Homo sapiens: one gene and its partners. The gene in region 1 interacts genetically with each later gene. Each region holds a gene or a part of one and is shown in the gene's direction. Other genes may lie near its edges. The genes, in order: KEAP1, BPTF, SGTA, ELMO2, TUSC2, DIPK1A and SLC38A10.

What was found.
Region 2: changes in KEAP1 (region 1) and BPTF together harm fitness more than expected from each alone (negative genetic interaction), as found in Homo sapiens cells (one large-scale study listed by BioGRID).
Region 3: changes in KEAP1 (region 1) and SGTA together harm fitness more than expected from each alone (negative genetic interaction), as found in Homo sapiens cells (one large-scale study listed by BioGRID).
Region 4: changes in KEAP1 (region 1) and ELMO2 together harm fitness more than expected from each alone (negative genetic interaction), as found in Homo sapiens cells (one large-scale study listed by BioGRID).
Region 5: changes in KEAP1 (region 1) and TUSC2 together harm fitness more than expected from each alone (negative genetic interaction), as found in Homo sapiens cells (one large-scale study listed by BioGRID).
Region 6: changes in KEAP1 (region 1) and DIPK1A together harm fitness more than expected from each alone (negative genetic interaction), as found in Homo sapiens cells (one large-scale study listed by BioGRID).
Region 7: changes in KEAP1 (region 1) and SLC38A10 together harm fitness more than expected from each alone (negative genetic interaction), as found in Homo sapiens cells (one large-scale study listed by BioGRID).

The regions. Positions count from the first base shown.
Region 1 is NC_000019.10:10,500,557-10,504,642, reverse strand, and holds the start of KEAP1 (kelch-like ECH-associated protein 1), read left to right. Parts: upstream 1-1,286; 5' UTR 1,287-1,402; intron 1,403-1,871; exon of another isoform or gene 1,872-1,946; intron 1,947-4,086. UniProt on the Homo sapiens protein: Substrate-specific adapter of a BCR (BTB-CUL3-RBX1) E3 ubiquitin ligase complex that regulates the response to oxidative stress by targeting NFE2L2/NRF2 for ubiquitination.
Region 2 is NC_000017.11:67,832,003-67,835,502, forward strand, and holds part of BPTF (nucleosome-remodeling factor subunit BPTF), read left to right. Parts: intron 1-3,500. UniProt on the Homo sapiens protein: Regulatory subunit of the ATP-dependent NURF-1 and NURF-5 ISWI chromatin remodeling complexes, which form ordered nucleosome arrays on chromatin and facilitate access to DNA during DNA-templated processes such as DNA replication, transcription, and repair.
Region 3 is NC_000019.10:2,759,274-2,762,773, reverse strand, and holds part of SGTA (small glutamine-rich tetratricopeptide repeat-containing protein alpha), read left to right. Parts: intron 1-129; coding exon 130-268; intron 269-1,251; coding exon 1,252-1,314; intron 1,315-3,479; coding exon 3,480-3,500. UniProt on the Homo sapiens protein: Co-chaperone that binds misfolded and hydrophobic patches-containing client proteins in the cytosol. Mediates their targeting to the endoplasmic reticulum but also regulates their sorting to the proteasome when targeting fails.
Region 4 is NC_000020.11:46,368,616-46,372,115, reverse strand, and holds part of ELMO2 (engulfment and cell motility protein 2), read left to right. Parts: intron 1-146; coding exon 147-310; intron 311-424; coding exon 425-537; intron 538-656; coding exon 657-764; intron 765-1,590; coding exon 1,591-1,673; intron 1,674-3,147; coding exon 3,148-3,225; intron 3,226-3,500. UniProt on the Homo sapiens protein: Involved in cytoskeletal rearrangements required for phagocytosis of apoptotic cells and cell motility. Acts in association with DOCK1 and CRK. Was initially proposed to be required in complex with DOCK1 to activate Rac Rho small GTPases.
Region 5 is NC_000003.12:50,325,424-50,329,372, reverse strand, and holds the start of TUSC2 (tumor suppressor candidate 2), read left to right. Parts: upstream 1-1,149; 5' UTR 1,150-1,273; coding exon 1,274-1,419; intron 1,420-2,895; coding exon 2,896-3,016; intron 3,017-3,186; coding exon 3,187-3,252; 3' UTR 3,253-3,949. UniProt on the Homo sapiens protein: May function as a tumor suppressor, inhibiting colony formation, causing G1 arrest and ultimately inducing apoptosis in homozygous 3p21.3 120-kb region-deficient cells.
Region 6 is NC_000001.11:92,844,065-92,846,462, reverse strand, and holds part of DIPK1A (divergent protein kinase domain 1A), read left to right. Parts: intron 1-280; exon of another isoform or gene 281-404; intron 405-2,267; coding exon 2,268-2,398.
Region 7 is NC_000017.11:81,250,308-81,253,807, reverse strand, and holds part of SLC38A10 (solute carrier family 38 member 10), read left to right. Parts: intron 1-567; coding exon 568-735; intron 736-1,124; coding exon 1,125-1,613; intron 1,614-2,195; coding exon 2,196-2,315; coding exon of another isoform or gene 2,316-2,593; exon of another isoform or gene 2,594-2,938; intron 2,939-3,500. UniProt on the Homo sapiens protein: Facilitates bidirectional transport of amino acids. May act as a glutamate sensor that regulates glutamate-glutamine cycle and mTOR signaling in the brain. The transport mechanism remains to be elucidated.

The DNA.
Region 1 (4,086 bases):
TGTATTTTTAGTAGAGACGGGGTTTTATCATGTTAGCCAGGATGGTCTCGATCTCCCGACCTCGTGATCCGCCTGCCTCGGCCTCCCAAAATGCTGGGATTACAGGTGTGAGTCACCGCGCCCGGCCCCGCATTTAGTCTTAATGATAATCTGGTAGGTAGGTGCTATTATATTATTACTTTTTATAGAGAGGAAACTGAACCATAGAGAACTAAGTAAGCGCCCACGGGCACTGAGCTGGTAAGAGGCAGATCCAGGGTTTGAACCCCCCAAAGACGGGTGCCACACGCCTCTTGATAGGAAGTAAATCAAAAATAAAGACAAGGAAGGCCGGGCGCGGTGGCTCACGCCTGTAATCCCAACACTTTGGGAGGCCGAGGCGGGCGGATCATGAGGTCAGGGGTTTGAGACCATCCTGGCCAACATGGTGAAACCCCATCTGTACTAAAAATACAAAAAATTAGCTGGGTATGATGGCGGGCGCCTGTAATCCCAGCTACTCGGGAGGCTGAGGCAGAATTTTTTGAACCCGGGAGGCGGAGGTTGCAGTGAGCCAAGATCGAGCTACTGCACTCCAGCCCAGGTGACAGTGAGAGACTCTGTCTCAATTAAAAAAAAAAAAAAAAAAAAAAGACAAGGAAAACCTGAGGCCTGGGCACAGCGCCTCACACCTATAATCCCAGAACTTTGGGAGGCCAATGGAGTCAGGATCTCTTAAACCCAGGTGTTCAAGACCAGCCTGGGCAACATTGCGAGACCCCATCTCTACAGAAAAACAAACAAACAAACAAAAACTAAAAATTAGCCGGGTGTGGTGGCGCCTGTCTGTGGTCCCAGCTACTCAGGAGGCTGAGGTGGGAGGATCGCTTGAGGCCAGGAGCTCAAGGCTGCAGTGAGCCGCGATTGCGCCACTGCACTCCAGCCTGGGCGTGCAGATCAGAGCGAGACCTTGTCTCTAAAGGAAAAAAAAAAAGAAAGAAAGAAAGAAAAGAAAAGAAAAGAAAACCTAGCGAGGTAGATAATTTTCCCTAGATCCTGCGGCCGCCGGACCACGAGGCCGGCGCTGTGCGTTGTTAAAAGGAGAATAGCAGATGGTGGCGCGCAGCCCCGCGAGGAGACATCCAGCAACGAAATCGGGAGATGGAAGGGACAGTGAGAAGGGGGGCCTGGCTGTGCGCCCCCGCCCGATGCCCCACTCCTCGCCGACGGGCGCCGGGCACCTGCGGGAAGGGCGGGAGAATCGCCGCTCCTTTCCCGCCGCGCCCTTTCCGCCCTCTCCCCGCCTCCTTTTCGGGCGTCCCGAGGCCGCTCCCCAACCGACAACCAAGACCCCGCAGGCCACGCAGCCCTGGAGCCGAGGCCCCCCGACGGCGGAGGCGCCCGCGGGTCCCCTACAGCCAAGGTAAGGCAGGAATCTCCTGGACTGGGTCGCGGTCCCCCGGCTTCCCGGAAGCGCAGTGCGCGGGTGGCATCACTGTGCCCGGAGCCCCTGCGCGCCCCGGCCATCCCCACCCCGAGGGACCCCCTACGGAGGCGACCTGGGGGCTGAGGTGAGCGCTTGGGCAGCAGCGACGGGGAGGGGTGTCCACCCCACCCCTGGTGCGGGCCGGGGCGCGCAGGCCTGGAACTCGGGGTTCAGACTCCCCGCGACTCGGACCACGCGGCTAAGCGCGCTCAGGGTCGCGTGCCCCCGCCCCGCCGCCATGCTGGGCGCCGTGGTGGCCGCGCAGCTGGGCGACAGCAGGCGTGGGCGGGGGTGGGGAGCGGCCCCTCAGCGGTCCCTACCGCCTGAGGCCAGGGCCCGGGGACTTTTATTGTGACACGGCGGGCGCCCGGCTCTGCTTAGTCATGGTGACCTGCGCGCGCTCCGCGCCTCCCCCACGCGCAGCGATGGAGGCGCCGGGGCTCGGGCGGTGGAGGCGGAGCCGGAGCGCGGCCATGGCGGGGTGAGTGAGGCGGGATGTGCCCGGGCTGCGGGCATCGCGGGCCGCGAGCGCCCCTGCGGCCGTGCCCGGAGACCAGGAAAACGGGCGCCACGGCCCAGGGCGCCTCCGAGTTCCCCGCCAGGACTCGGAGGGCCAGGAGGGCGCGACCTGGGTGGATATTTTTGTTGGACGGCGCAACTCTTGGGGTGGCCCGGGAGCGGCGGAAACCGAGCGAGAGAACCAGGAGGCGCTGCGCAGAAGGAGGCCCGGGGGCTCCGAGGCGTTGAGGGGCTCGATCTGCGTTCTGGGGTTGGCAGCCGAGAGGCCGCGGTGGGGTCACTTCCTCGCCTCACTGGGCCTGGTGGAGGCTCAGGAGGGGCATGCGCAGTCGCCCACTTGCCGCTTTGTAGGGTGGGGGAAGTGCCCGGTGCCCAAGGGGCATTGTTGACCGATTGGCCAAAGACCAAGAGGCAAACCCAGGGCCTTGGCACCAGAGTGGGGGCCGAGTGGCACCCAGGGAGGGTGGAGGAGGCCGCTCTGGCAGGCACGGTGGCAGGGCAGTTAGCCAACCACCCGTTTATTGACCCCTGCGCAGTGCCAGGCCCCAGGCGAGAGGCACAGGAGAGGGTTGGCCCGACGCCGACCTACATAGGTCTCCCTGCCATTTGAGGCGCTGGGGCCGGGGACGAGAGACAGTCGATCAACAGACAAGCAAAGGAGGTCATTTCAGTTCCTGACAAGCGCAGTGATGACAATAAAACAGGGAAGAGGAGACTTTGAGTTGAGTCCCAGAAAGAGGGGAGTGAGAACTTGCAGATCCACTTGTGGGGAGCCACTTGGAGATCCCCCACTCCTTTTGAAACGTAACTCACGTCTGGGCACAGCAGCCTATGCCTGTAATCCCAGCATTTTGGGAGGTCGAGGAGGGGGATCACTTGAGGCCAGGAGGTTGAGACCACCCTGGCCAACATGGTGAAATCCCATCTCTACTAAAAATACAAAAAATTAGCCCATCGTGGTGGCTGGTGCCTGTAATCCCAGCTACTCAGGAGGCCGAAGTATGAGAATATCTTTTTTTTGTTTTATTTGAGATGGAGTCTTGTTCTGTCACCCAGGCTGGAATGCAGTGGTGCGATCTCGGCTCACTGCAAGCTCTGCTTCCTGGGTTCACGCCTTTCTCCCGCCTCAGCCTCCCATGTAGCTGGGACTACAGGCGCCCGCCGCCACACCCGGCTAATTTTTTTGTATTTTTAGTAGAGATGGGGTTTCACCATGTTAGCCAGGATGGTCTCGATCTTCTGACCTTGTGATCCGCCTGCCTCGGCCTCCCAAAGTGCTGGGATTACAGGCGTGAGCCACCACGCCCGGTCGAGAATATCTTGAACTCGGGAGGCAGAGGTTGCAGTGAGCCAAGATCGCACCACTGTACTCCAGCCTGGGCAACAGAGCGAGACTCTGTCTCGAAAAACAAAACACAAAACACATAACTCATCTCCTGGCCCTCCAGGATCCAGGGGTTTCCATGAAACCCTTCCTTAAGTCCTTAGCTCTCACTGCACTCCTTCCCAATTCTCCAGATTGACTGTCTCAGCCTCTGAGCCACTGCACTTACTGTTTCCTCTGCCTGGAAAACTACTCCCCAGCCTCCCACTTTATAATAATTTTCATCCTTGTCTCAGCTCCAACCTCACCTTCTCAAAGAGGCTTGGTCTGCCAGATTTTAAAAAACTGCACCCCGGGTCAGGCATGGTGGCTTACGCCTGTAATCCCAGCACTTCGGGATGCCAAGGCGGGCGGCTCACTTGAGGTCAGGAGTTTGAGACCAGCCTGGCCAACATGGCGAAACCCAGTCTCTGCTAAAAATACAAAAACTAGCCGGGTGTGGTGGCGGACGCCTGTAGTCCCAGCTACTCGGGAGGCTGAGGCAGGAGGATCGCTTGAACCCGGGAGGCGGAGGTTGCAGTGAGCCAAGATCGAGCCATTGCACTCCAGCCTGGGTGACAGAGAGACTCCATCTGAAAAAAAAAAAAAAAAAAGCAAACAAACTGCACCCGATTCTCACGTTGTCACAATGCTGTTGTAATTTTCTTCATGAAGCTGTTTTTCCAGGTCTTGCTTATTTTAGTTTATGATTGCTCCTCCCTGCAGTTGTCAGCTCTGG
Region 2 (3,500 bases), on another chromosome or scaffold:
TGCCTCAGCCTCCCGAGTAGGGGACTACAGGCGCCTGCCACCACGCCCGTCTAATTTTTGTATTTTTAGTAGAGACAGGGTTTCACCATATTGGCCAGGCTGGTCTCAAACTCCTGACCTTGTGATCCGCCTGCCTCAGCCTCCCAAAGTGCTGGGATTACAGGGGTGAGCTGCCGTACCCGGCCTCTAATTTTTTTCATGCTTTTGGTTTTTTAAAATGATAAGCCTCAGGAGGCAGCATGTTTCTTAATTTAAAAAAAAAAAACCACTTATACATTAAAATGCACTTTAAAAGATCGAAGGTGACCGTATAGAAATAATTAAAATGCACGTAAATATAATTATAATGTTTTAATTGTTTTGTCTGCTGGTATATATCTAAAATTTTTATGTTTTTCTAGATAGTAAGTTATATTCAACTATTATTTTGTGATTGTCACATTTTAAAAATAGTGACAGTAATAGCTAAATTTATTGGACATCTTCTGAATTGCTGAATGATTTTCAAGCAATATTTATGAAAATTCAGTTTTTAAAAGGTAACAGCTGTATGGAGATATAATTTATATACTGTAAAATGTACCCTTGTAAAGTATATAATTTAGTGGTTTTTTTAGTATATTGACAGAGTTGTGCAACCATTAACACTACCTAATTCCAGCACGTTTTTATACCCCCGCAAAAGAAGCCCGCACCGTCAGCATCACTCCCTGTTCTTCACCTCCCTCCTGCTCATCCCTGGCAGCCACTAATCTACTTTGATTCCCTGTTGATTCGCCTCTTTTTTTTTTTTTTTTTTTTTTGAGGCAGAGTCTCGCTCTGTCACCTGGGCTGGAGTGGAGTGGCGGGATCTCAGCTCACTGCAACCTCCACCTCCCGGGTTTAAGCGATTCTCCTGCCTCAGCCTCCCAAGTAGCTGGGATTACAGGCACCTGCCACTGTGCCTGGCTAATTTTTTGTATTTTTTTTTTTTTTTAGTAGAGACAGGGTTTTACTATGTTGGCCAGGCCGGTCTCGAACTCCTGATCTTGTAATCCACTCGCCTCAGCCTCCCAAAGTGCTGGGATTACAGGCGTGAGCCACTGCGCCCCGCCTGATTTGCCTCTTATGGACATTTCTTATAAAGTGGAATCATATAATATATGTCTTCCATCATTTAGCCTAATGTTTTCAAGCGTTATGCATATCTTAACATGTATCAGTACTATATTTGAATAACACTTCATTGTATGGCTATACAGCCTTTTTTTTTTTTTTATGGAGACAGGGTCTTGCAGTGTTGCCCAGGCTGACCTCAAACTCCTGGACTCAGGCAATCTTCCTGCCTCAGCCTTCCAGCCTCCAGAGTAGCTAGGATTACAGGCACACATCTCTGTGTCCAGAGACCATGTTTTGCTTATCCATTTCTTAAGTTCATGGACATCTGAACTGTTTCCACTTTTTGGCCATTAGGAATAATGCTGCTGAGCACATTCGTGTACATGTTTTTATCTGTACGTATGTTTTCATTTCTCTTGGGTATATAACTAGGATTATTTGCTGTATTATTGCAAATTCAGTTTTAATTTCTTTCTTTTTTTTTTTTTTGAGACAGAGTCTCTTGTCGCCCAGGCTGGAGTGCAGTGGCATGATCTTGGCTCACTGCAACCTCTGCCTTCTGGGTTCAAGTGATTCTCCTGTCTCAGCCTCCTGAGTAGCTGGGACTACAGGTGTGTGCCACCATGCCTGGCTAATTTTTGTATTTTTACTAGAAGAGGGTTTCACCATGTTGGCCTTGCTTGTCTTGAACTTCTGACCTCAAGTGATCCACCCGCCTTGGCCTCCCAAAGTGCTGGGATTACAGGTGTGAGCCACCGTGCCTGGAAGAAAGTAATTCAGGAGTTAGAATGAATCCTTAGTGATAGATTGGTTAGGCTGGGATGTGGTGAGTGGGAGAAAAGGATTCAAGGATGAACTGACTTCTGAATCTCCCTTATTTCTCTTTTCCTTATTCACTCCTTATTTCTTCTCTTCATCTCGAATGGATCTAGTAATACTGATTTCTTTGTAGTTCTCACACACCTAACTCCTAGTCATCCATCCATCACCTTCTCCAGCCTGCCTTCTCTGATCACCATTCCCTTTACCGCCAGGTGGGGCTAAGTTCCTGTGTTTCCCACCCGTATAACCTCCAGGACCATGTGCATTAAGTGTTTTAGTTTCCAAATATTTGGGAATTTTTTAGCTATCCTTCTGTTACTGATTTCTAATTTAATTTCATTTTGTTCAGAGAGTATACTTTGTATGACTTTAATTTTATAAAACATTTTTAGAGGTTTGTTTTGCACCCCAAAATTTTGTCAGTCTAAGTGAATGTTCCATATGTACTTGAAAAGAATTTTGTATTCTGCTCTTGTTGAGTGGAGTATTGCATAAATGTCAATTAGGTCAAGTTTGTTGATAATGTTACTAAGATCTGTCTGACTTTCTGCTTGTTCTGTTGATTACTGAGAGAAGTCTTGAAGTCTGCAGCTATTGTGAAGGATTTGTCTGTTTCTCCTTGAAGTTCTAGCAATCTTCATGTATTTTGAGGCTTTATATTCATGTATTTTGAGGCTCCTTCCTAAAGTCCATAAACCTTTAGGAAGGATTATTTTATCCTCTTAATTATTTAACCCCTTTATCTCTATCTTTATCTGTTAAGACATGGAGCTGAAATGGGCTTTTAATATCTGGCCCTTCTTTAATTACAACCTACTTTGGGCAGGGACAGTCTCATTCAGTCTCTGTAGTGCCTGGTTCAATCTCTTGAATGCAGTAGGCAGCACAAGTAATTGTGGAACTGAATGATGAGTCAAAGAAAGCCTGTGGATTCTTTTCACGCTCTATACTGTCCAGTATGGTAGCCACTAGCCACATGTGGAGAGTTAAATTAATTAAAACTAGGCAGGCCAAGCGTGGTGGCTCATACCTGTAGTCCCAATACTTTGGGAGGCTGAGGTGGGAAGATCACTTAAGGCAGCAGTTGAAGACTAGCCTGAGCAACATAGTAAGACACTGTCTTTACAAAAGAATTAAAATAGTTTGGCAGAGGTTGGCATGCCTGTAGTCCTACCTAATTGGGAGGCTGAGGTGGGAGGATTGCTTGAGCCCAGGAGTTAGAGGCCCTAGTCAGCTATGGACCATGCCACCACACTCCAGCCTGGGTGACAGAGTGAGAACCCATCTCTTAAAAAAAAAATTTAAGTAAAATGAAAAGTTAGTTTCTCCTGTGGCACTAGCTGTTATATGTTCATTTCAAGTGCTCTATAGCCACATGTATTGCACCACACAAATGTAGAGCATTTGGGGCATTTCATATCATTGCAGAAAGTTCTCCTGGACTCATTGTAGTCAGTCTGCCTCTGTTAGACCAGGGGGAATTTACCTAACATCTCTTTTTCTCTAGCCTTTTATTTGCCCTAAATCCTGCACAGCTTGGGTAGCCCCAGCACTCTGGCTGAGTGAAGTCCTCCTTTGTG
Region 3 (3,500 bases), 7.7 Mb from region 1:
ACAGCGGGCAGGGGGTGGCACCATCCGAGGTGGTTTGGGGGTTGCCAGGACCGCCGGGGACGAGGGCTTTGGCGGGGCCTCCTGGAGCTGGGCAGATGGGAACAGTCCATCCCCGGTGCTCTCCTCCAGCCTGGCGCTCTCCAGCCTCAACAAGCACGTGGAGGCCGTGGCTTACTACAAGAAGGCTCTGGAGCTGGACCCCGACAACGAGACATACAAGTCCAACCTCAAGATAGCGGAGCTGAAGCTGCGGGAGGCCCCCAGCCCCGTGAGTGCAGCGGGGGCGAGTGGCTCCAGAACGCCGAGCTGACTGTGTGGGTGGGGGACAGGTCCTCGGGCGCACCAGTGGCTCTAGGCTTAACCTGGGTGTCGTGAGGGTCCGGGGTTTGTTTCAGTTGGTGGTGAGATGCACAGGCGTGGAAGTGAGTGTCGTGAGAAGGTTCATGCCCCCAGACCCCTGGAAGCAGGAGGCCGGCCGCAGGGCTGCCCGCGGAGGCTGAGGGAGGGGCACAGAAAGGACCCTCGATGTGGGTTTTGTGGCGAGGCCGGGTGAGGAGGCTTCGGGTTGGCTGGTTGGAGCCATTTCATTAGACCCAGGCCTGGGGGCTGCCCCTGGTTGCCTGGTCCCTGGCCTGGGGGTGAGTGGGGCAGGTGGACTGTGGCCCTGGGGTGATGGGGGAGGTGCTGAGGGTGTGGGTTCTGGGTTAGTTTGTTTGTATTTCAAAGGTGCGTTTCTGGGTGAGTCATTTGCTTTCTCTGGGAATTGGCTACTCCAGGAGGGGGCGGCTCTGCCAGGCCAGCAAGGCCCCAAGGTGTCAAAGCGGCAGAATACAGGAAATCAACACGGGATGATAGACTGTGCCGTCCCCGGGCGGTCGCGCTGTACGGGGAATAAACACGGGATGATAGACTGTGCCGTCCCCGGGCGGTCGCGCTGTGCGGGGAATAAACACGGGATGATAGACTGTGCCGTCCCCGGGCGGTCGCGCTGTGCGGGGAATAAACACGGGATGATAGACTGTGCCGTCCCCGGGCGGTCGCGCTGTGCGGGGAATAAACACGGGATGACAGACTGTGCCGTCCCCGGGCGGTTGCGATGTGCTTCGTGCTGCCTGCCTCAAAGCACCCTCTGGCCGCAGGGTTGATAGAATGTCTGAGCCCCGTGGGGGGCCGTTGTTTCTGAGTTCCAGGGGGTTATTCACCGTGGCCTCTGGTCCAGGCCCCACTAACCAGGGCTGTTCTCATCCTCAGACGGGAGGCGTGGGCAGCTTCGACATCGCCGGCCTGCTGAACAACCCTGGCTTCATGAGCATGGTAACGGCCCGCCCCTCCTCCCTGTCCATGGTGTCTGCGCCACCCCCCAGGCCCGCATCTGCTGTGTCCGCTACTGGCCAGGGCTTCCTTGCCTTGGCACTGCTGGCTTCTGGAACCAGATGGGTCTTGTCTGTGGGGTCGTCCTGGGCACCGCAGGGCGCTGGCAGCACCCCTGGCCTCACCCGCCCCATGTCAGGAGCACCCCCACCCTCTGCTTCGACAATCAAAAGTGTCCCCAATGTTGATGTCCCAAGCAAGACCCATCAGTAGTGAGCACCAAAAGCTGGCTCTCCTGGCTGAGCCCAGGGAGGTCACACCCCCACCCCACCCTGGCGTGGGCTCCTCCTCGCAGTGCAGAGACACTGATCACAACACAGCAGCGTCTGCCTCCTAAGGTTCAGGCAAGGGAAGCAGAGCGCCGGGTGCGCCGGGCGCAGGTGGACCTCCCGATGCCCGGGCACTCATGCTTCCAAAGGGACGGCCTTTGGCAGGGAGTTCCTTGACTGGGATCCTCGGAGAGCCATCCCCCACACACACATGTTCATTTCCTGGGAGGTCTGTGTGCCCTGGGACCACTCTTCAGGCTCCCACAGCCTCAGGGTACAGGGACTCGCCTAAGGCTGTCGGGGAGAAAAGCCCTCAGTCTCACTGTCAGTCAGAAAAATGAGCCAGCTGGGCCAGGAGCCCTGCCCGGGTCGTGCCATTCAGCAGAGGCCACACCTCTTACTGTAGCCCTCGTCCGCTGGCCAAGCTGCCAGGGGAATATGTTCTCCCTCACCATGGGATGGAGGGTGACTGGGCCCCAGTCTTTCAAGGGGCCTCTCAGCTTGGCCATGTCACAGACGCCTTTTCCCTTCAGACATCTGGGGTTGGCAGAATAAGGCCCGCCGCTGGGTTTTGTTAATAAAGTTTTTTTTGGTTTTTTTTTTTTTTTTTTTTTTTGAGATGGAGTCTCGCTCTGTCGCCCAGGTTGGAGTGCAGTGGTGTGATCTCAGCTCACTGCAACCTCCGCCTCCCAGGTTCAAGCGATTCTCCTGCGTCAGCCTCCCGAGTAGCTGGGATTACAGGTGCCCACCACCATGCCTGGCTAATTTTGGTATTTTTTAATAGAAATGGGGTTTCACCATGTTTGCCAGGCTGGTCTCGAACTCCTGACCTTGTGATCCACCCGCCTCGGCCCCCCAAAGTGCTGGGATTACAGGTGTGAGCCACTACACCTGACCAATAAAGTTTTATTGGCACACAGCCATGCCCATTCATACACCTAGTGTCACTGGTGGCTTTCATGATACGGCGGCAGAGCTGAGTAGTTGCGTCAGGCACCCGTGTCTGAAAAGGCTGAGAGTATTTACACACTGGCCCTTTACACAGAGAGTTTGCCACACCTCTGAGCCACCTCCTTTCAACAGGTCCAAAGGAATAATCCCAAGTGGAAAGTTAACATGAGAAAGTGCCCAGTATAGTGCTATTTATTTATTTATTTATTTTTACTTCTTTTTTGAGACAGAGTCTCACTCTGTCACCCAGGCTGGAGTGCAGCGGTGTGATCTCGGCTCACTGCAACCTCCCCCTCCCAGGTTCAGGCGATTCTTGTGCCTCAGTTTCCCAAGTAGCTGGGACTACAGGCATGCACCACCACACCTGGCTAATTTCATATTTTTAGTAGAGACGGGGTTTCACCATGTTGGTTAGGCTGGTCTCGAACTCCTGACCTCAAGCGATCTGCCTGCCTCGGCCTCCTAAAGTGCTGGGATTCCAGGCGTGAACCACCGCGCCCAGCCACAGTGCTATTTATTGATAGAGCAAAACTGGAACCAAATATGCTAAATGAAATATGCTAAAGCAGACAGCAGCTAAAATAAAGAACCAAAACGCCTCCACACAGCAAAACCGCAGCAGCCAGTGAGAGAGCGCTGTGGCGCTGCGAGATCGCTCCTGAAGCAGGAACCCAAAACAGGATTTAAGTCACAATGTGGAGGTCACAGCTCGTGGGTGGGGGGGCGAAAATGTAGGGAAAAGGGTATGAAAGACCGAATGCCCGGCTCTTACTGTTGGTTGGCGTGCTGGAGTCCAGAACCAAGGCTGGTTAAGATGGAAAGTGTCTGATGAAAGAGAATGATGCGCTGGGAGCTTTGTCTTCCTGACAAATTTGTTCTGTTCTTCAGGCTTCGAACCTAATGAACAAT
Region 4 (3,500 bases), on another chromosome or scaffold:
AAGGTATACCTTACTCACCCAGCAGATGTCTGTAGTGCCTGCCCTGCTCAAGACCCTGGGGCAGGAAAGAGCCTTGGTGCTCCATAATAGGCCTGTCCATTTCTCAAGAGTAGTGGTGTGAGTTGGCTGGGTTCTTCTCCTCTTAGGTTATGCAAGTCGTCCGAGAGCAAATCACTCGAGCTTTGCCCTCCAAACCCAACTCTTTGGATCAGTTCAAGAGCAAATTGCGTAGCCTGAGTTACTCTGAGATTCTACGACTGCGCCAGTCTGAGAGGATGAGTCAGGATGACTTCCAGTCCCCGCCAATTGTGTAAGTTCCATCTCAGGGGAGGCTGGCGGGGGAGGTGGCTGCCAGCTCTGCTTTCCTTCCAGAGCTCCACTGTCCCCATGACCTTCCGCTCACTCCAGTGTGTGTCCACCCCAGGGAGCTGAGGGAGAAGATCCAGCCCGAGATCCTTGAGCTGATCAAGCAGCAGCGCCTGAACCGGCTCTGTGAGGGCAGCAGCTTCCGAAAGATTGGGAACCGCCGAAGGCAAGGTGAGAGGAGACGGGGCAATCCTTGGTGCCGGGAAGAGCCTGCCTGGATGGCCCCTTTTGTGCCCAGGCCTTTCCCAGTACTGTCGTTGCTCACCTGTTTGGCTTCCCTTGTGTTCCAGAACGGTTCTGGTACTGCCGGTTGGCACTGAACCACAAGGTCCTTCACTATGGTGACTTGGATGACAACCCACAAGGGGAGGTGACATTTGAATCCCTGCAGGAGAAAAGTAGGTTCATTTCTCTGTTGATGTGTCATGGTTGCTGGACTTGTCAGGAGACAGGAGTTCTAGTCCAGCTGTTTGTAGCTGATCATCTGGGCTTGTACCTGTTACCTCTCTGGACCTGTTTCCTTATCTGTCAGCGATTTCCTCTACCTGGCCTACTCGGTGGGGTGGTTTGGAGAAACAATGAGTTCACAGGTGTGAATGTATTGTGTAGACTGTAAAGGGTGGTACATGACTAAGTCGAAAGGCAGTAGTTAAGAGGAGAAGCTGTGAAGCCAGACTGCCCACATTCAAATCCTGGCTTTGCTCCTAATTAACTTGAATTCTAATTAATTGCAAGTTCTCCCCTCTGCCTTGGTTTCTTCTCCTGTAAAGTGGGAATAATAGCCACACTTTCCTCCTAAGAGGATTGCATGAGTAATGTATGCAAAGCACTTAGAAGAGTGGTTGGCAGGTAGTCAGCATAACTGTTAGCAGCTGCCACTGCTGTTGGCGATGATGGCATCATCATCGCCATTATTGTGAAGGAGAGGGGAAGGGAGTCACCAAGGTCCCGTTCCTTGGGGATATAAATCCAAGAGCCCTGAAGTGACCCTCAGTTAGCTTTGACACAGCCTCACTGGGCTGTGGTCTACAGGAGTGACCAAGACGGAGGGAACAGTACAAGGCCATCCTCCCCACCACCCTCACTGAGCTCATACAGCAGCCCTTGGAGTTTGGGGCTGAGGCTTCCTATGCATCTGCCCCAGTACCTCCCTTCCAGCACTGATGTAGGCACTGACCAGCTTGCAGCATGAACTTCCAGAGACTAATTCCCATCATTTATCAGTTCCTGTTGCAGACATTAAGGCCATTGTCACTGGGAAAGATTGTCCCCACATGAAAGAGAAAAGTGCTCTGAAACAGAACAAGGTGAGTAGAGAGGCCAGTTTGAGTAGCTGGCCCAGTGATACTTGGAGAGTGCCATTGGTGGTGGTTTTTTCCAGGTGCATTCTTGGCATCTTCCCCTCTCTATTCCTGAATGTTTTATTAAGAATTTTGAACATACACAAAAATAGATGGAACCTCTGTATACACATCACCCAGACTCAGCAACCATGGCCAGTTCTGCCCATCCACTTGTTTCTCTCCTTTATCGCTTTGAAGAAAGTCCCAAGTATCACACTGTTTCATCTGTAAATATTTAGTGTACATCGTATAGTGTATAACATTGCCACCAGTCCATTAGCACACATAACAGGAAATGAAAGTAGTTATTTCAGATCAAATATTCCACTGATGGTGACTTTCTACCAATTGTCTTATAAATGTCATAATTTCTCTACAGATATATAAATGTTTATATGGATACACACACACACACACACACACACACACACACACACACACACACCCCCATACCCATCTTGTCTAAACCAGAGTCTAAGACTGGTCTTTTAAGTTTCTTAATTCATAAGTTCCCCCGCCCCCCCATCCCCCACCATCTTTTCCTTTGCAGTTTATTAGCTGAAGAACCAGATTGCTTGTTTGGTAGTTTCCTAGCATCTGAATTTTGCTGATTGTTTCCCCGTGGTACAGTTTAACTTGTTCCTCTGTCCCAGATCTGTACATTGGAAGAGGGATCTAGAGGTTTGATCCAGTTCAGGTTTAACTTTTTTCCTGGCCAGTGTCATCAGTGGTATTATGTTCTATCAAGAGGCACATAACGTCTGGTGGTCTCTCCTTTTGTGATAATTAGCAGACTGTTGAAGCTCAGTGCCTCATTCCATCAGTCAACTAAGGTTTGCAAACTCATGATATTTTGATGCAGTCATTGCTTTTCATTTATGAGCTGAACCATGAAACTTGCCCTTATCTACTATTGGTTTCCCAGTGGTACAGTTTATATAGGAAACGAGAATAAATGCTGATTCTTCTTTTATGTACTTACTTTCAAAATAATGAGTTAGTTCCTTGGTATCATGCAACAGTGACCAATTTTGTGTGTGTGTGTGTTTTGTTTTGTTTTTTAATTGTTAAGACATTCCTATGCCAAATACAGCACGATAGAAGTTGTTAGTCATCTTGGTAATATAAAAACTTTTAGGATAACTTACAGTCATGGATCGTGACCTTCCAGGGTTCTGAGTGTTGAAAATGACTTTTTTCCAATCTTAAAAATATCACAACATCTTTGATGTGACTTGGGCAGGGAGTGGGTAAGTTAAGGTTGATTTATGCTGGGCCTCATCTCCAGCCACACTTGTGGCCGCCTAGGAGCATTGATGACATTCATCTGAATCAGCATGTTTGGTGATGATGCCGAGTCACTAGGACTTTGGCCAAGATCTTGATGTGCAGACCCCAGGCTGTTCCATCGCTCTAATTTAAACCCTTTCTCCTTCAGGAGGTGTTGGAATTGGCCTTCTCCATCCTGTATGACCCTGATGAGACCTTAAACTTCATCGCACCTAATAAATATGAGGTGAGCAGTGTGGCGCTGCCTTAGACAACAGAGCTATTTCTGTAACTCTTCAGTTGGTGGCAGGAATGAGCAAAACAGGAAAGTCCCCTGTGGTGGGTGGCTGCAGTGTATATTGAAGCCTAGGAAGGCTTTGAGAAGAAGGTGGCATTTCAATAGGATGGGAATGTCTCAAAGGAGGAGCTGTGGTTGGGGGGGCACCCAGATGAAGCAGCAGGTATCATTACATAATGCTGGACCTGAGGTTCCTCCAGGCGCATTGGGTGGCTGCCAAGGAT
Region 5 (3,949 bases), on another chromosome or scaffold:
GCCAGGAGTTCGAGGCCAGCCTGGCCAGCATGGCGAAACCCCATCTCTACCAAAAATACAAAAAAAATTTAGCTGGGCGTGGTGGTGGGCGCTTGTAGTCCCAGCTACTCAGAAGGCTGAGGCAGGAGAATCGCTTGAACCCGGCAGGCAGAGGTTGCAGTGAGTGGAGATCACACCACTGCACTCCGATAGAGCAAGACTCCAACTCAAAAAAAAAAAAAACGGCCGGGCGCAGTGGCTCAGGCCTGTAATCCCAGCACTTTGGGAGGCCAAGGCGGGTGGATCACCTGAGGTCCGGAGTTCAAGACTGCCTGACCAACATGGTGAAACCCCGTCTCTACTAGAAATACAAAAAAATTAGCCGGCATGGTGGCAGATGCCTGTAATCCCAAGTACTCGGGAGGCTGAGGCAGGAGAATCGCTTGAACCCTGGAGGCAGAGGCTGCAGTGAGCCGAGATCGTGCCACTGCACATTATCCTGGGCGACAAGAGTGAAACTCCATCTCAAAAAAAAAAAAAAACAAAACCATCCCTTCAACACACACACACCACGCTCTGGGAGAAGGTGTGGCATAACTCCTTCACCAAATACAGAGCTGCCACCGTGGACCAGACACTGCTCGTGATACCGAGGGTATAGCTGTTAACAATTCTTGCTTTCATTAAGCATGGACTCTGCTGGGTTTGAAAACACTGAATTCGAAGTTCTTCAGAACTGAATGTAACTATGTGAATCTGGCCAGTTCCTTAATTTTCTTTCAACTTGGTTAGTTCACATAAGCGTGGCAATCGCAAAAATACAGCTGTGAAAATAGAAGCCAGATGGGCACCCGGCGGTCTGGCCTTAGGCCCTGAAGTGCAGGTTTGAGGATTGGTGCTTGCGAAGTCCTGCTAGGCCTGAACTCAGGTGTTGGGGGACGTCAGAGCCGCCAAATACACCCAAAAGACCGGGAGGACTCACGGCCACCACTTTCCTCGGTGGGAGCTGTCCCAGCTGGTCAGATCGCGCTTGCTGGGACCTGGGATCTCGCAACGCATGCTGGGATGCCCAGCATCTAAGGGCGCCCATTGGTCCCGCCCCCACGACTTGAGCAACAGCCAATCAGAGGTGGCAGCGTGCGGAAGCGGAAGTGAGGTTTCCGTGGAGACAGCCGAGCCTGCGGAAGGCGGCGGCGGCGGCACCTGCGATCAGCGGCTGGGGCAGGTTATGGTAGTGCGGACTGCGGTGTGAGCAGAGCGGCCACGGGGCCCGCCATGCGCCGGCGGCCCTGACATGGGCGCCAGCGGGTCCAAAGCTCGGGGCCTGTGGCCCTTCGCCTCGGCGGCCGGAGGCGGCGGCTCAGAGGCAGCAGGAGCTGAGCAAGCTTTGGTGCGGCCTCGGGGCCGAGCTGTGCCCCCCTTCGTATTCACGCGCCGCGGGTAAGGGCATGGGTTCCACCCTGGCGGGGGGAACAGGCGGGCGGCCAGGCGTCCCGCGCCACGGGGGAACTTCCACCGCTGTACCCCACTACAGCCAAGCCAGGACGACCCCCATATTTTGAGCCTCATTGGAGCTGGGGGTGGAGAAAGCCGGGCAGTGGTCTCCTGGCGGCCTGGCCACTCTGAAAGTCTCCCTAGGGAAGAGTGGGCCTGAGGCTTGTCACTGGTCGGACCTTCCGCACGGTAAAGCTAAGCTAGGGCCTCCATAAGACCTCCATAAGATCTCTTCCTTTCATCCCTTCCGGCTCAGCCTGCATACTGAAGGGTCCTAGCCTCCCTTTCCCCCCCAGTTATTCCAAGGGGATAATAACCCTCTGTTTAGGCTGCTTTTCCTGACAGTAGTGGGGCTGAACCTTTGAGCGTAGTGGCTGGGAAAGCAGGGATAGGCCTCAGTATTGGGGGTGAGGCTGAGGAAAAAAGACCCTCACCCAGTTATGTTCTCCAGATCCAGAGCGCTGACCTACCCACCCAACCCCCAGCCCAGTCTCCCAGAGGCCCGCACAAGAGTACCAGATTGGCTTGGCTCTAGTGGGCTCCTGGAGATGGGCGCTCCCTGTGCTAGAGATTTGGCTGTAGACACCAGGAAGACCCAACAGTGGCAATTCACCAGCCACCTGGGGTGTGGGGTCAGGGGAGACGCAGCCTTCATTCCTTTGTGCTTCTTCCTAGCTTAGGCTTCTGCTATTTCAGTCTTTGACACTGGGCCAGCAGCATCTTCTGGAGTGAGACCAACATGCCCAGGCCACCACCCTGCCCACTCTAGAAGTCCTGGGTGAAGGCAAAGTCCTGATATTAGAATGGCTGCCCTTGCTGAACAAATCAAGGATGAGAACTGGCCTTGGTGGCTGCCTGGATGGTGTGCTCTGGTGTGGGCTCTCTTCTTGGGGGTCTGACATAGTAGCACTGCCCACCCATCACCTCACTTCCCACTTTCTTCTAGTAGACCCCAAACCCCAGGCAAAGGATTCTCCAGGCAGGCCAGGCACCGTGGCTCACGCCTGTAATCCTAACACTTTGGGAGATGAAGACGAGTGGATTGCCTGAGTTCAGGAGTTCGAGACCAGCCAGAGCAACATGGCAAAACCCCGTCTCTACTAAAATACAAAAAATTAGCAGGGTGTGGTGGTGCATGTCTGTAGTCCCAGCTACTTGGGAGGCTGAGGCAGGAGAATTGCTTGAACCCAGGAGGCAGAGGTTGCAGCAAGCTGAGATCGCGCCACTGCACCTCCAGCCTGGGCAACAGAGTGAGATTCTGTCTCGAAAAATTTTTTTTAAAAAAAGGATTCTCCAGGCATATTATCCTCTTTTCTTCCCACTTGGGGTTGGGAAGACCACAGACTTCCCCGTGACCTGTGACATTTGCCATGCCCAGGTGTGGGGCTCCAGCCCAGCCTGTTTCCTTCTCCCTCTACACAGCTCTATGTTCTATGATGAGGATGGGGATCTGGCTCACGAGTTCTATGAGGAGACAATCGTCACCAAGAACGGGCAGAAGCGGGCCAAGCTGAGGCGAGTGCATAAGAATCTGATTCCTCAGGTGAGGGGCTGGGCAGCGGTCACAGAGCCTACACTAAGCGTGTGGAGGTGGACCCAGATGGGATCTGTTGTCATGGTGGGGGCTTTTGCGGGGGGATCTGGGAGGAACAAGGAAGCTTCCTGAAGTAGAGGCCCTGAGCTGACCCTTACTAGCCTCTGTTTCCATGGCAGGGCATCGTGAAGCTGGATCACCCCCGCATCCACGTGGATTTCCCTGTGATCCTCTATGAGGTGTGACCCTGGGAGGTGGCAGACAGAAGCACCCCCTGCCCCGGCAAGAAACTCCCAGGCTCAATCAAGGTGTGGCTTCCATTGAGGAGCCCAGGCTGGGGCCACAACCCTGAATAAACTCTGTTGGCCCATAACCTTCAGCTGTGAGCGGGTCGGTCCCACAGTATTGGTTGGGTGTTGGTTTGTGTGTGGACAAGAGGTGGTTGGTGGGTGGTGAAGGCTAATGGCAGAGTTAGCACCCCACTCTCCCAAGCCACCCCTGCAAGCAGCACAGCAGGGCATATACCAGTCAGGAATGCCCGTTACCTGGTTCCTTGCCTGGTCTGCTTTCTTCCAAGTTTGCCTGGGGCCTAGCCCTGCTAGAGGCTACAGCACTTTACAAGCAAGGTATGCTTTCTTCCAGCCCCTAGGCTGTGGGCACTGTATACAAGTAGGAACTTCCTTTCCTTCACTTCCCTTTTAACCCCTAGTCAGAGCATTTCAGCCGTTTGCTACCTCGATTCCTCCTGTGTTGGACAGAGGCTGGGGGCAGTGCCAGCCTGATTCTTCCGACCTACCTGCCATTTGTTCCCGCCTTCAGATGGATGGACAGTTTGCTGGCTATTGATAGGAGTGGGGACTGGGTGGGGGCTTCTCCCTCTACCCAGGGCTGGGCTGATCCCCCTACTGCAACTAACTGTTGCCCCCCAACCCCGAACCCCCA
Region 6 (2,398 bases), on another chromosome or scaffold:
CTATTAGAGGCTGGGAAGGGTACAGAGGAGAGGAGAATAAGGAGAGGTTGGTTAACAGATACAAAATTACCGCTAGATAGGCAGAATAAGTTCTAGTGTTCTATAGCACTATAGGGTAAAGGGATTAATAATTTTTGGTTATTTTCAAAAAACTAAAAGGATTGTGAATGTTCACAACACAATGATAACTGAGACATAAATATGCTAATTACCTTGATTTGATCATTACAAATTGTATGTGTGTATTGAAATATCACTATGTATCCCATGAATTTTTTTTCTGTGTGCTCCCGTTCACAATACAGACAAGGCGCAGGGCCTGGGCTGAGGTGTACATGGGAGTTCACCTCCTCATTCTATACAGTCAGTATAAGAACACAGCCTGGGGTAAGCACCAGGAGGCCTGGGGATTTTTTTTCTTTCTTTCTTTTTTTAAAAGATGGTTGGTTATTTGTTTTGTTTTGTTTTGGCAGGGTCTTGCCCTGGTGCCCAAGCTGGAGTGTGCAGTGGCATGATCTCGGCTCATTGCAGCCTCAGCCTCCTGGGTTTAAGCCATCCTCCTGCCTCAGCCCCCCAAGTAGCTGGGATCACAGGCGCACCACCGCACCTGGCTAATTTTTTTTTTTTTTAGACGGAGTCTCGCTCTGTTGCCCAGGCTGGAGTGCAGTGGCATGGTCTCAGCTCACTGCAACCTTGCCTCCCAGATTCAAGCAGTTCTCCTGCCTCAGCCTCCCGAGTAGCTGGGATTACAGGCACCCGCCACCACACCTAATTTTTGTATTTTTAGTAGAGATGGGATTTCACTATTTTGGCCAGGCTGGTCTCGAACTCCTGACCTCATGGTGATCCACCCGCCTCAGCCTCCCAAAGCGCTGGGATTACAGGCGTGAGCCACCGCATCCAGCATTTTTTTTTTTTTTTCAGCAGAGACGGTTTTTTTTTTTTTTTTTTTTTCTAGCATAGACACGGTTTCACCATGTTGCCCAGGCGGGTCTAGAACTCCTGAGCTCAAGCTATCTGCCCACCTTGGCTTCCCAAAGTGCTGGAATTACTGGCTTGAGCAATTGTGCCCATCAGTATCCCATAAATTTGTAGTTATTACATGTCACTAAAACTAACGGGAAAAAAAGCATAGCAGTTCTTCCTATGCAAAAAAAAAAAAAAAAAAAACGGTACTCTGCAAATTATTTTTTTAATTTAAAGGAATACCAATATAGGCCGGGCGCGGTGGCTCACGCCTGTAATCCCAGCACTTTGGGAAGCCGAGACGGATGGATCACAAGGTCAGGAGATCGAGACCATCCTGGCTAACATGGTGAAACCCCGTCTCTACTAAAAATACAAAAAAAAATTAGCTGGGCGTGGTGGCAGGCGCCTGTAGTCCCAGCTGCTCGGGAGGGTGAGGCAGGAGAATGGCGTGAACCTGGGAGGTGGAGCTTGCAGTGAGCTGAGATCGCGCCACTGCACTCCAGCCTGGGCGAAAGAGCGAGACTCCGTCTCAAAAAAAAAAAAAAAAAAAAAAGAAATACTAATATATAGATTAAATAGAAATAAAACAAAGTTTTAGAAAAAAGTTTTATTTTCATTGCTCTTTTATTTTCACTCAAATTTTTTATTTGGCCATTTTACATGTATTTCAGACTAACGGAAATACTTTTTAATCTTCATTATTGTAATACTACTATTTGAACAAAATAATTATTGTGATAAATACAAAATAGGATAAAATAATTAGGCCAGGCATGCTGGCTCATGCCTGTAATCCGAGCACTTTGGGAGGCTGAGGTAGGAGGATCACCTGAGCCCAGGAGTTTGAGACCAGCCTGGGCAACATAGTGAGATCCCCATCTCTAAAAAAAGGAAAATAATTTTTAGTTGACCCTTATTGTAACTTTGATGTAAGTACATTACAGTACAATTTTTCAAGTCCACATATGAGGCGGTGGTTTTTTAATGTATGAATGAGGAATAATTACATTGTTGGTTAACTATCTAAGGGGCCTGAAGGGGACAGGGGAGTTAGTGGCCATTTCCTAACAAACAGACAAGTATTTTAAAGTGGGTTTTACTGCAGTTACATAAAGCATGGTTCTAGTTCACTTAGGAAGTATCATAAATATTTGGAGATATAATACATTAAGTTCCTGTTTGGGGATTCAGTACCAAGATTATTTCTGGCATGGTTAATAATGCCCGTAAAGAAACTTAGTATGTTGCATGGGAGGTATTTTTCATTCCTTCTGTGTAACTAGCCAAATTCTTGACAGGCAAAATTGGGTGACCAAGGAAACCTCTCTGAACTGGTTAATCTCATCTTGACGGTGGCTGATGGAGACAAAGATGGCCAGGTTTCCTTGGGAGAAGCAAAGTCGGCATGGGCACTTCTTCAACTGAATGA
Region 7 (3,500 bases), on another chromosome or scaffold:
TGATGATGGTGATGGTGGTAGGGATGGAGATGGTGATGATGGTGACGGTGATGATGATGGTGATGGTGGTAGGGATGGAGATGGTGATGATGGTGATGGTGATGGTGATGATGGTGATGTTGGTGGTAGGGATGGAGATGATGGTGATGATGGTGATGTTGATGGTGGTAGGGATGGAGATGATGGTGATGATAGCGGTGATGGTGGTGGTGGTGGTGGAGGTGACGGTGATGACGGTGATGATGGAGGTGATGGTAATGGAGGGGACTGTGGGAGAGTGGGTCGGTGGGCTCGTGCCGCCATCTGGTGGTAATGACTGAGTATTACATGGAGTCTAGTTCTCCCTGCCCCCAGTTAGGTGTAAATCGCATTTTGACATATTTTTGTTGTGAATACACATGAAAAATGACAGTTTTCTGTGCTACTTAGCTGCTAATGATCGAACAGGAAAAAGAAACTGCTTTGACTCTGCCATTTGGCTGGAAAATATGGTAACAGTCCAGGGAGAGCTGCCCCGCTCCTGGAGCTGCTTGGCAGTGCAGTTCCCTAACTGTGCCCTGCTCCCAGCCCAGGATCCGGTTGTGGCCGTGGCTGAGGATGGCCGGGAGAAGCCGAAGCTGCCGAAGGAGAGAGAGGAGCTGGAGCAGGCCCAGATCAAGGGGCCCGTGGATGTGCCTGGACGGGAAGATGGCAAGGAGGCACCGGAGGAGGCACAGCTCGATCGCCCTGGGCAAGGTGCTGGGCACTGGCTGGGGGTGCGGATGGGGAAGGGCGGCCCCGGGTCCTCCTTTGCAGGCTGGACACCCTGCGGGGTGGCTCTCAGGGCTGTGTGTATCTTTTTCCCTTCAGCCCAGCCTAAGTTCTGGTCCTTTTTGTTTTCTCTGTCTTTCAATTCAGATGAATGTCCTGCCCCTCCCAGAGCAACTTGTTTGCAGCTGCCCCTGTTGAACTTTAGCATCAGCTGTGCTTGGCCAGGCAGCAGGGAGGCCGGCAGGGGAGGTGGTATCTGTTGGCCTGTGTCACACTGTTGGGAGCCAGAACCCAGGGAAGAACCCAGTTCTAATTCCCTGGGAAGGGAAGGAGGGGCCTCAGCCTGACCCCATCTGTCCCCCGTGCCCTTGCAGGGATTGCTGTGCCTGTGGGCGAGGCCCACCGCCACGAGCCTCCTGTTCCTCACGACAAGGTGGTGGTAGATGAAGGCCAAGACCGAGAGGTGCCAGAAGAGAACAAACCTCCATCCAGACACGCGGGCGGAAAGGCTCCAGGGGTCCAGGGCCAGATGGCGCCGCCTCTGCCCGACTCAGAAAGAGAGAAACAAGAGCCGGAGCAGGGAGAGGTTGGGAAGAGGCCTGGACAGGCCCAGGCCTTGGAGGAGGCGGGTGATCTTCCTGAAGATCCCCAGAAAGTTCCAGAAGCAGATGGTCAGCCAGCTGTCCAGCCTGCAAAGGAGGACCTGGGGCCAGGAGACAGGGGCCTGCATCCTCGGCCCCAGGCAGTGCTGTCTGAGCAGCAGAACGGCCTGGCGGTGGGTGGAGGGGAAAAGGCCAAGGGGGGACCGCCGCCAGGCAACGCCGCCGGGGACACAGGGCAGCCCGCAGAGGACAGCGACCACGGTGGGTGTCAGCCTGGGCTCGTGTCGGAAGACACTCCCCTCTTGGGCTGGGGAGGCTGGGCAGGGGCAGCAGAATCGATGGTTCCTCCCTCAGTCCCCAGTCTCTCTCCCTGCACCAGATTAGCATGCAAATGGAGCGGGCCCCGGCAGCTGGTGGGGACAGGAAGAGGCTGGTGGCTGACAGCTACTGTAATATCTGTCACACAGTTGTTTGCCAGACCACTAAATGTCAGGTGCCGCGCTGTGCTCGTGTGTCTGGGCGCACACGGGGGGCGGCGCGGGGGGCGCCTGACAGGTAACACGTTGTTAAGTGCCCGTCTAAGAGCTGCTTAGGACAGTTCTTGCATTTTAATTGCGAAGGCAGTTACCATTGGCTCATTGCCACAAGCCTATGAGGTTGTTAAATATTTTTTTATTGCTTCGCTAGTAATCATCAGGTTGAATATAAACTGTGCTGACGGGGGTGTCACTTTAGAAACATCTGCCACTTCCTTTTGTCCCGCCCTTGCCTTCTGTCCCCCAACCCCCCAAACCCTCCCTTGACTTTCCTGCAAAACCTTCTGAGTCTTCACCGTGTGTGCAGGTGGGAAGCCTCCCCTCCCAGCGGAGAAGCCGGCTCCAGGGCCTGGGCTGCCGCCCGAGCCTCGCGAGCAGAGGGACGTGGAGCGAGCGGGTGGAAACCAGGCGGCCAGCCAGCTGGAGGGTAAGGCCTCCGCCCTACAGCCGCCTGCCTCAGGCCCAGGGAGCGGCAGCCCCCTCCCCCAGCCCTGGGGTGATGCCCAGGTCATCCTCGGGAGCCCTGCCAGGCCCCCCTTCTCTTTCCAGCCGCCTGCTGAGCAGACCCCTCGGAGAGCTTTCTGCTCCCTTCCCATCAGCAGCTTGCTTTCTGGGAACCTTTTATCTGCCTTACTCCCCTTTAAACACCTGCGGCATCGTCACATGGCTTGTGATTACCGTTTTATCTCCCTTGCTCCCCTTTAAAACACCTGCGGCATTGTCACTTGGCTTGTGATTACCATTTCGTCTTTAAAGCAGGTTTGTTAACAGTTTTAACACTCGGAGTATTTAAAGCCAGCCAGGTGTGGGCGTGCCTGCACCCAGATGTGGAGGTTTATTTTAAGGCTGTGCCCCAAGGGGACCCAGTTTGGGGGTGGCTGTGCCCGCCCTGGTCCTAGCATAGCCCTGGCCCAGAGCACTGCTCCCACACCCTCGGGCCTCGGAGCTCGGCTGTGTTCATCTACAGGGATCTGTCACCTGTCCCTCCAGGAAAGCTCCTTACGCCTTTGCTCTCCTGAGAATAAAACTTGCTCTGAATCCTCCTCCAAACTTCTCGCCCCTTGGGTCTCAGCTGTTGGCTTTTTGCGACCCCTCCTTGTGGCCTCATGCAGTTGGGTAGCAGCAGCCCCGTCTGTGAGCCTGCTGGGGACAGGCTTCTGTGCCATGTCCTCTCCCAGGCTAGGGGTCCACCCGCCCTCTGAGGGTGTGTGGCTGGGCCCCCGCTCACCAAAAGTCACGTGCATTTGGTGGCAGTGTCCAAGCCTTCTCTCAAGATGGTCAACCCTGCCCCATGCGGGGTCCACGTGTGCCTCAGCATTGAGAGGGTCTGTTCCAGGGATCTGTGTGGGGGTCGCAGGGCACAGCCGCTCCAGCCTCCTGTGCCAAGCCCCTGGGAGCAGGTGTGGGAGCTCCGGGCCAGCCCTGGCACGGGCACCTCCCAGGATGTTCGTAAGACACACGCTTCCTGCCCGCGCATCTTGCCCTGTGGCCTCAGGACAGCCGGTCCGAGGGAGGGCAGGTGCAGCAGCCACGTCCCAGTCGCTGCGGCCTGGCTTCTCCAGGTGCAGCTCGCCCTCCTTGCACCTGCAGCGCGGAAGGCAGAGCCAAAAGG